2 separate regions of the Homo sapiens genome follow, and region 2 is linked to region 1. The links come from fine-mapping of genetic effects on gene expression. A gene starts in region 1. The other region holds a variant in brackets. All regions are shown on one strand. Distances are from middle to middle.

Region 1 (5,385 bases):
ACACACACACACACAAATATATATATACACATATATGTACATATATAAAGTAAGTGTTATATGCAAAATCAAAGCTGGCAAATGATATTTTGGATGATAGATTGTTGCTATTTTAGGTAACTTGATCAGTGAATGCCTCCCTAAGCAGTGTCATTTGAACCCAGATCTCGATGACTTTAGTAAACCTATTCTCAGGAGCCTATAAAACACTATTATTTCTCTCATGAGGAAAAAATGTGATGATCAACAAAAGTAGTCAGGATGTTAATTCACAAGACAAGTTCCATCTGTACTTGTAGAGAGCAGGAAACTTGCCTGCTGTGTAAAGCTGATGTATTGCTGGTGTTTTTCCTGTCCTTTGTGTGGTGCTCTCACTCTCTTCCCCCTTTTCCACCTCATTACTCTATACCACTTCTCAAACCATTCTCCTGCCATCTTTAGGCTGAATTTCAGTATTTAACTACATTTCCTCTTTTAATCTCGTATTCTTTATTTTAAGGAACTAATTGCATGTGGTATCTGTCACTGAGTACCTCAATACCCCAAACAGGAGTAGGCGACAATTTCAACCTTCTTTAGCTGTCCTAGACTTTGAGGAGTCTTCCCCATTGAGCTTTTTTGGCAGGAAATCAGTCAATATTGATTGAGTACCAACTATATATCAGGCTCAGTTTAGGAGCTGTGGTTGAAATAATGAACAAAGGCAAAATCTCTGTCTTAAAAGAGTTAAATTCTAATTTAAGAAGACAGGCAATAAAATTGTAAATAAATAACTTTTGGATGTCGTTGATGTGATGGTGAGTATGTGTGGAGATTTCTTAGTACTTAAGCTGTTGTCCTTCTTAGTAAAATTGTACATATAAATATAAAGTATAATAATAATCCCTTGTGAAGTCATTCTCAAAATACTTGACAAGTTATTAGTGGCCTCGATACACCATAAAATATGGTAGCTGCTGGCCACATGTGACTATTTAAATTAAAATTAAATAAAAATTTCCAATTCACACTAGCCACATTGCATGCAAGTAGCCACATGTATCTCATAACTACGACCTCAGAAAGTACAGATATGAACATGTTCTTCATTGCAGAAATTTCTGCTGAACAGCACTGGTGTAGATAGCATGAGGCTAATGGGAATTTTTCATCAATGGTAAGAACAGCAGTTTACAATTTTGGCGTCAGGCATTTTACATATGTTTAACTTACATAATCCTCAAATAACCCTATGAGATAGTTCCTGTTACTAGACCCATCTTACAAATTAGGGAAGAGAGGCACCTAGCTTTAATGTTCAATATCAGTCAAGTAATAAGAAATGCTAAGAACTGAAGGCAGACAGTCTGGTGCCAGCACCCACCCTGTTGTCAAATATCTTGATGTCTTGGTATGGAGAAGATGAAGAGAGTGAAGAAGGGTTTTGTGTGGTGGACAGAGTCTCCACAGAAATAAGAAGTGGCCAGTTTTGTCAATGTCTTTGGCAAATACTACCTTTTCGGATCTCCCTGATTCATCCGAGATAGGTCTTATTGCCTAGATGGGGCTGTGCAGGCAGAATCATAGAATGTTAGAACTTAAGAGAACTTTGAAACTATCAAAATATTTCACAAATGAAGAAACTGAGACATTCACAGGTTACCTGACTTACCCAGGGTAACAGAGTAGTTATGACCACAGCCAAAATTAGACCTCATGTTTCCTGCGTGTGTGTGTGCATGCGTGTTTACACATGGCCCCCTTGGCACCAAGAGCATAAAATTCCCTGATGTATTATTAGTTTAAAGACATGCTAATCTTGGGAAGTGATTTTCTTTTTCCCAAAATGTTGTCTGTGTCTGTGTGTTGACCTTTTAATAAATTCACTTTCCTTTTGTCTAGTCTTATTTTACCCACCCAATCTTGCATCCCTCCATCATGACCACAGGGATTCACAACCCAGCTACGTAGACAATTATTTCCTGTAGAAAGGTAAACAAATTCATAGCAGCTCGAGTTCTTACACACACTATTAGAAATTTGAAAAACATGTTATAGGCTCCACCATCACTTTGAGTATCTACAAATTTTGCTTTGCATTTTTTTTTTCTAAGAGAGTTTCTCTCGGTATCGCATCACCACCCTTGTCAGCCACCAACATGCACGCAAAGAAAGCACTGTTGCAGAATGAGTTTCCGTCGAGCTTTTAGTTTCTGTTCCACTGCAAAGGGGTCATACGCGCTCAGAACATAAAGCAGTCTGACTGGCGCTGACAACCCCAGGACAGCAGCCGGCTGGGGCAGTGCAAAAGCTTCATGCCTTCTTCCCCAACCAAGAAGGACTTCAGTTCGAGCCCGCACCGGCTTCGTCAACCGCGAGACCCGAAGTCGTAGACCGAGTCCAGTCCTAGGGAATTCGGCTGAGGCTTTGCCGGCGCGGCGAAGAAGGTGGCAGGCGGCAGGCTGAGCTCCACTGGACACAGCCTAGTGGCCCGGGGCGCGCCCGCTGCACTCCCGGCGTCCAGGTCTGGCGCACCGCGGGAGGCAGGCGCGCTGCCACTCTCCGCAGCCGCTTCGTCCCCTGGTCTGTCTCGCCTCGGCTTCAGCGGGCAAACCCACAGCTGGTCTCCTGGGCGCTGATCTCCCTGCAATCCTTGCTTACATAAGGCGGGCGGGCGTGCTCCCGCCCCCGGTTACCCCCCAGAGGAGTTGTGCTGCGCCCTCTACGCCTCCTTGGCGAGCGCCTTCGCGCACCCGTGCGCCCTACTCTAGGATGTGAACCTCCTTGGCCACCCAGCAGCGACAGCCGGGACATCTCTCCGCCGGCGTGAGAACACTGAGATTGGAGACCAGAGCGCCTGACGGTGCCCAAGCTTCCTCCCTCCGTTCCCTCCTCCTCCAACTCCCCCCACTTCAACCCCCACCCCCACCCCCACCCCCGGTGTCTGTGTGTGTTCCTCACAGGCGAGGGGACCCGGAGAGCAGTCCAGACTTCGGCGTGCGGCGGAGCTGCGGCTGCTCCTGCTGCTGGGGGGAGCGGCGGAGGTGGCCGCCTTGCGCCTCCCTGGACTTCCCAAGTGGGGGCAGAGCAGTCGCTCGCGGGAGACGTCAGTTAGAAGGCATTGGGAAAGAGGGACCTTCAAACTCCTCCTCGGCGTCTCCTCTCCTCCCCCTTTTGGCCCCTGCCTTTGGAGAAAGTGGAGTGTGGCGCTTGGTTGTCGTTATTTCTTCGGACTGCTTCGCGGTGCACGGATTCAGCTTCTGCCCAGTGGGGCTTTCAGCTGTTTGCGCGTCTCTCTGTCCCCCTCCCCTCCCCCCGGCACACCTCTGTCTACGATGAGGAAAGGTCTGCGGGCGACAGCGGCCCGCTGCGGACTGGGACTGGGATACTTGCTGCAAATGCTCGTGCTACCTGCCCTGGCCCTGCTCAGCGCCAGCGGCACTGGCTCCGCCGCCCAAGGTAAGGGGGTCCGCCAAGCTCCGCGGCCACCTCCCTTAGCTTCTTCCTTCCCTCCTTCCTCTCCTCCTCCCCAGTTCTCTTGACTTCCTCAATTTGCCTCGTTGCTTTCAACTGGAAACCACTCTAAATTCCACTTTCCCAACTAGTCAAGAAGCTTTGATTATAATAATAATAATTATTATTATTATTATGTTTAATCTATCTTCTGAGATGGGCACGAATGGACCAGGGACGAACGGGGTGTGGACACGCAGCCGATCCGTCTCCATACGTGTGGGAGCCTGGAGTGTCTTGTGCCCTTTCAGCTCCGCACGCGCACGTTGTTGCATATTGCACACACGGAGGTTTGGAAAGACTCTCGGTGCGGGTGGCTGTGTGACATACCGTAGATGCACCCCGAAGCGCATGATGCGCAGAGGCTCCCCGCGCTGTGCCAAGACTGGGGTAGCAGGATCTTCACTGAGTCTCTGAGCACACTAGACCCCGAAGGGCGCTCAGCTAAGGAAATGTGTCCATTACTGTCAAGGACTCAAAAGCACCCGTCCCCCTCGCCTGCTGCTTCAGGTGCTGTGGAAATACACAGCTCACCCGAATCCGCGTACCCGGCTGGAGGCAGGCCCGGGATGTGCATGCCTCTGCACTCATACATACCCCGCTTCATGCCTGCTTCCCACCAGGGGATGTAGAAATGAAAATCCCGGAGCTCTGGGGGAACCGGCTGCTTGTTCAAACCAAATCCGAAACTCCCCGGGGTAGTCGACCAGTTTATAACTCTGACATTTTAATTTAACGCCTGTGAACTTTAACATAAGTGACCGGGGCCCTGGGCGAAGCCGGGTTGGGAAGAGTGTGGCCGGGAGTTGGGGATGGGTAAGGGAGGAGGGGAGGCTCCGGAGCTGATCGCCCGGCTCCCTTCTTGTCCGCCTAGTTTGAAGTGTTAGCAGCAGCTCCCAGCCTTCAAAGCCGGGAAAGCTGACTGGAAGGGAGCGCAGAAGAAAGAGCCAAGGCTGTCCCCTCCGGGGTCTCTTTCAGGTCACCTGGGCCCCAAAACTTCTGGCCAAGCCCAGCTCCTACTTGGGTCTCTTAGCCCACTTCAGTGGTGATAGCCGGCTCAGGCGAGGCAGCTCAGCTTTTCCTGGAAGAGGAGAGAATGAAGGAAGCTTATGCAGCATTCAGAGGCAATTCAGGGATTCTCCCTTCACTCTCGGTTACTCTTCCTTCCAAATTTGGAGAGTAAAGGGAGGCTTTACGATAGCCCCAACTCCCCAGGTGATGTTCAGACACCCTAGGGTTTCCGGACAGCATTCCCTCTGATCTTAGAGAGGCGCTGGGGGTGGGGATGGGGGTGTTGGAAGCGGAGGAGAGCGCCTAGCATAGGAGTGCGGTCTGGGTGGAGAGGTAAGTGATTAGCAAGGCTTTGTGAATTAGCGATAGCTTCTTCGGAAGTAAATTTTCCTGCTGCCCTGCTAAGTGGCCCTGCTCATAAATCCTTCCTTCCTTTCTCGCCAGATGCCTCCCATCCCTGAGGTTCTGCTCTGGTTTTCTTATGCACACCTCCAGAGTTCATCTGTCTGTCTATTTAAAAAGGAATCTCCACCGAGAATCATAGCTTGTGGATTTCCTAAAATTGATAAGAAGTTCTCAGGGCGCTAGCCAAGGGTGCTTAGAGGGGGGTGTTTGGAAGCTTAAGTGAACAACCTTATGAATAGTCGTGGAATCAACCGCGCGACTCCCTGTGGAATTCGCCTGCTGTTACTGGGCATACAAAGGACTGAGCCATGGGGGTGGGTGGCGGGAGAGGGGGACGGGGCACGGTGAGAGAACTGTTTGGGAAAAAGACAAGTTAAAGTCCCCAAAGATGCCAAACAAGAGATAGGATTCCTGCTAAGAGCTTACAATAACCAAATTAAAAAGACTGGGTAGAAAAAGGATCAATAAAGATAATCA
Region 2 (5,385 bases), 260 kb after region 1:
CCTTACAATAGCTTCAGTTATGACCAGCTACAGGTCAAGTGCTTGAAAGCCTCATGTGGTTTGCATTGGACAGATAGGCTCCAGAATAATAATACTGATAATAATGGAAGTGCTGTTTCAATCATGTATTATGTATTAGATCATTCAGTCTTTGCAAGGACTCTATGTGATGAGTGTTATTATTATTCCCATTTTATAGACAAGGAAATTGAGAGCAACGGGAGATTAAAAATCGCCTGAGGTTATACAGGTGGTATATGGAGCAGTGAGTCAGGCCAGCATCCAAGTCCATGTGTTTAACCAGTACACTGGGTACAAAGAAGGGAGGAGGAGACAAGGATTTGTAGATCAGCTGGCAATTCACAAAAACATCTTATTCTCTACATGCATAATGTTTATAACTGGTGCAATGTCTTACGTTGTAATCCCAGCACCTTGGGAGGCCAAGGTGGGAGGATCACTTGCACATAGGGGTTTGAGACCAGCCTGGGCAACATAGCAAGACCTTGTCTCTAATAAAAGCCAAAAAAAATTAACCAAGTGTGGTGGTGTGCACCTGTGATCCCAGCTGGGATACTACTGTCAGCCCAGAAGGCTGAGGCAGGAGGATCCCTTGAGCTCAGGAGGTCAAGGCTGCAGTGAGCCATGATCACACCACTGTACTCCAGCCTGGGTGACAGTGAGATCCTGTCTCAAAAAAAAAAAAAAAAAAAAAAAAAAAGCTCACTATTATTTATAATACAGAAACATAAACAGACCTTGGCTTCCTGCCTCTCTTCTTATTGCTTTGTCTGCTCTAACCACATCCATTTCCTTGTTTCCAGAATGCAATAGATTCATTCCACATATAGGCTGCTTGCAAGAACTGTTTCTTCTCACTTGAAACATTCTTACCCCAAGTCTAAAACTGGCTTACTTTCTTCTTTCATTCAGATTTATACTGAGATGTCACTCCTATAGAGGGGTCTGTCTATCCGGGCCTCAACCCTGTCACTTGCCTAATCCTAATCCTGCTTTATTGTTCTCCATAACATTTTTCTTCATCATTATTTGTTTTCTTTTGAGTTAACCATCTGCCATACCAGAATGTAAGCTTCACAAGGACAGAGACTTTCTTTTCTTCCTTGTTGTCTCCAGTGCCTAGAAGACGTCCCTTGCCTGTGGCTGCTGATAAATAAATTAAAACATAAAAAAATGAAATAAAATTGAATTAAATTGAAAGTACATGATGGGGAAAAGTGAAGATACTATTCAATGTGAATCATTTGTTCATTTAATAAAAATACTTTTTTTCCCCAAGGAATTCAAGAACATCAGGTAGCTGGACGTAATTGCCTCTACACTCTTGTACTTATTACGTTTCTGCATAGCACTTCTCACCTTCTAAACCATCATACATTTACTTATTTATTAGTTAATGGTTTGTATTCTGTACCCCCTCACCCCCTTAGAAAGTAAGGTCCACATAGGCAAAGATTTGGGTTTGGTTTTTTCACTGATTAATTCAAAACGCCTAGGGTGATTCCTGTCACAATGTAGGGACTCAAGAAATATCATAAAGGAATGAATGAATTGACATTTCTGTATTTAAGTATCTCCAGTTAAATATATATGTAATCTCCGGGAGGCTGAAGCAGGAGAATGGCGTGAACCTGGGAGGCAGAGCTTGCGGTGAGCTGAGATCGCACTACTGCACTCCAGCCTGGGTGACAGAGCAAGACTCCATCTCAAAAAAAAACAAAAAAAATTTATATATATATATATATATATATATATATATGTGTGTGTGTGTGTGTGTGTATATATATGTATATATATGTGTATATATATATGTAATCTCATGAATTATTATATTGGTTCACATGTACAGAAGTCCTGATTTGTGGCCTTATGTGTTACTTTTTTATTTTCTACCTGTCTACTCTACTTGGCATAAAACAAAATTAATTATACAATTTAACAAAAATAATGCATTTCTTTAAACAAGCATCCTGAAAGATGAAGGTCATACTATAAACAGTTCTAGTAGCCTAACACCAAATGTACTGGCAGGATTCAGCAGGCTCCCCTGTACACCAGAATAAATGGCATTTTTACTAAGGTACATTTCTGAGTTGTAGTATGATACCTTGTATAACAACCATTAAAGCCCACATTAATCCAATTATAAGTAACAGAGGCCATATTTTGAATTGGATAAGATTAAATATATACTTTAGACATTTTTAGATAAGGGAAAAATATTTAAACAATAAATTAATTAATACTCTTGTTTTATATAAATCTTGACAGTTGTATTATCAGGTTATTCCTATTTCAAGATTAAATATTATAATGTATACCTGATTGTGTCAGTCTATATTTTTTCAAACATATTTGCTTTTGTAGATGGTCAGAAGTTCCCAAGTTTCATGGATGCCCCACAAATTCTTAGGCATTTATAGCTCATATTTATTCTGAGAGGTAGACAACGAATTCATAGAACACAGTCTCATAAGTCATATTTTGGGGGAAATCATCTATACGTATGTTATAGGCAGGGCTGGTAACACACTGGACAAAAATGTGTTATTAAAGTATGTTTTATGCTGTATGAAAAGTGAAGTTTATGGCTAAAATGCTTATTTGCAAGAAAACAGCTTGTCTGCAATCATTGCATTCTTTTTTTTGTACTCTGAGAAAAGAGCCTTAGCTTTTTGGTATGTCAGTTTCCTCATCCATAAAGTTGGCATATTTCTTATTATTTATCCCTAAGACATACCTTAAAAAATACTGTGATGACATATAATCATTTTTTTTCTGAAACTAAAGATGCATTTTGAATATAAAAGAGTGGCTTGTATGGATTTTTTTTCTTCCTCTTTTCTGTAGTGGATGTCATTTGGAGTGCTAGCTGAAATATTTATTTTTTTAAAAAACTCTTTAACAAGACTATCTGAATACAAATGTGTTTGTCCTATAAATGCCCAAAAGTCAAGAAATAACGAAGAATGGCTGAAATTGTCCTCCCTTCTAAAGAGTCTTTGTTCCCTG[G/C]AATTTCTCTCATTTAAATGATCTCAGTGCAGTAAGTGATAGCCAGGGCTTGGCACGACTGAAGAAATTACCAAGCTTACCTTTCTGCTGACTTGCTGCAGATCATTCTAACCGCTCTTCCTGGTTATGAGTTATGATATTATGAAAGTGTTTGTGGTAAATTCCTAAGAGAGAACGAAAACTTTACCCCTTACAAAAGCAAAATGCGGTTATAAAACAACAGGAAAAAAATCAAAGTCGATTGTCCTTATTCTTTCTTCTTTAGTCTCTGTCCTAGTAGCCAACATTTATTATATGCTTACTGTATGCCTAACTCTGTTATAAGACCCTTGTTCATGTTAACTATCATAATCTTCATACGACATCCTATGAAGTAAGTTCTGTTATCTTCATTTTGTAAATAACAAAACAGAATCATGGAAATATTAGCTAACTTGCCCATGTCACCTGTTTAGGAAACACTGAATCTGAATTTTAAACAAACTTTTCTCTTTGCAGTCCAGTTCATTGCACACAGTTGCAAAAAACATACAACCATTCTTGACTTTTCAAACTATAGAGGGAACTGCATATAGTTGATTTTTGTTTGTTTTATTGTTTACAATATTTGAGAAGGAAAGATAAGTTAAAAAAAAAAAAACACCACCAAACTTTTTATTTCTTTAATTTGTTTTTTCAGAGACAGGGTCTTGCTTGTCATCCAAACTGGACTGCAGTGGCATGAGCATAGTTCACTGCACCCTTAACTTTCTTGGGCTCAAGCGATCCTCCCACCTCAGCCTCCCTAGTATCTGGGACTACAGATACCTACTACCATACTCTGCTAGTTTTTCTATTTTTTGTAGAGATGGGGGTTCTCACTTTGTTGCTCAGGTTGATTCCAAACTCCCTGGCCTCAAGCGATCCCCAATCTTGGCCTCTCAAAGTTCTGGGATTATAGGTATGAGCCACTGCACCGAGCTTCAATTTTTAAAATATTCTATAACCTTTATATTTACAAACCACAATAAGAGTTGCTTAGCATAATAATATTTTTCTTTATTTTTAAAAATTCCAGCAAAAATCAGATACTCTATTCCTGGAAAAGAAAACCATAGCTAACATTTCAGGGCTCTATGGCATTAAGTCAGGCATTTTTCACTTTTAATAAATGCCCAAAGCTCTGAAGGCCAATCTAGTTCTTCCAAAATATGCTTCACTGTTTGGTTCACAGCAGTTATTTCCTGTTAACAGCCAGATTTGGTGATTTAAGCATAAATTCTAGTCTGCTATGACAACATAATTAGCACTTTCCATCATTATTGGAAGAAAGATACATTTTTTTCCCTTTAAGAACACAGTATTATTACTTTGAGTGACCATGAAATCATTTGCTAGAGGAGCACTTTGAAAATATATTAAAACAGCTTTTTTTAAAAAAATATTAGAATGTGTTCAACACCATTGTTCAGTGAGTGTGTAAAAAGAATTAACTGAAAAGCACCTGAAAATATGAAAATGTGAATCATAGTACAGCAGCTGTATTTGCTTAATGCAGGGTCAGGCCTAGGTCAGAAAGTGAGTAAGCTGGCCAGCAGCAGATAACAACATGAAGCTCTTCTAAGTACAGAATTTCCACAGATCGAGGGCCTTTTTGTCAAGACCAGTTCAATTTGGGAAGCAAGAAGCTTATTTCTGATATTTGGAGTTTGGCTTCTTAGTAAAATTTAAAGAAATAAATATCAGTACAACCATCAACTCTGTGAACACTTGACAGCAATGCTGATTTAGGGGCTGGAGGAAGTGGGTATGTAAATGAGTACATTGACAGAGGACTCTTTATGTAACTGCACTGTCCTAAGTGTGCTATTTATATTACCTTTTAAAATCATCACAGTAATCCTATACAATATGTAATAGAATTATCTTCATTTTATGGATGAAGAAATGAAAACATAGCAACCTCAGTAAGTACAGAACTAGGATTAAACTATGGCAGAGCAGATCCAGGCTCCATGCTTGTAACCACCACAGCAGGATAGATAATGACCCCCAAAGGCATCAGGTCCTAATCTCTGGAATTTGTAAATATTAACCTTATGTGGAAAAAGGATCTTTGCAGATTTGGTTAAGAATCTTGAGATGGAGAGATTTTCTGACATTGCCCAGGTGGGCTTTAAAGGTCATCACAAATGCCTTGTAAGAGAAAGACAAAGGGAGATTGACACAGATTGAAGAAGAGAATGCAGTGTAACCACAGAGGTAGAGATTAGAGGGATGTAGCCACAAGCCAAGGAATGCCATCAGCCACTGGAATCTGGGAGAGGCAAGTCATGGTCTCTCCCTAAGAAACTCCAGAGGGAGCGCATAATC

Which allele goes with the higher level. Positions count from the first base shown, and alleles are read on the strand shown. Sizes are in standard deviations (SD) of each study's normalised expression.
For the expression in tibial nerve of the gene that starts at base 3,199 in region 1, allele C in region 2 goes with a lower level than allele G (small effect, 0.37 SD a copy in GTEx).

What was found. PIP is the estimated chance that this variant, and not a neighbour inherited with it, causes the effect.
Region 2: its variant is the best candidate, but not a certain one, in a credible set for the expression of UNC5C in tibial nerve (GTEx, PIP 0.86).

Annotation. Positions count from the first base shown.
Region 1 is chr4:95,546,787-95,552,171 of GRCh38, reverse strand. UNC5C (unc-5 netrin receptor C) reads left to right here and starts at 3,199. Exons shown (of 16, transcript NM_003728.4): 1 at 3,199-3,438. The coding sequence starts at 3,315. It overlaps UNC5C-AS1 (UNC5C antisense RNA 1), which reads right to left and starts at 3,024. Exons shown (of 5, transcript NR_183914.1): 1 at 2,941-3,024. RefSeq lists an enhancer at 2,628-2,757.
Region 2 is chr4:95,288,632-95,294,016 of GRCh38, reverse strand. The region is part of intron 3 of UNC5C (unc-5 netrin receptor C); the gene reads left to right. Among named protein-coding and RNA genes, the nearest start is that of UNC5C, 260 kb to the left of the region's middle. The variant G/C (reference allele first, on the strand shown) is at 3,034.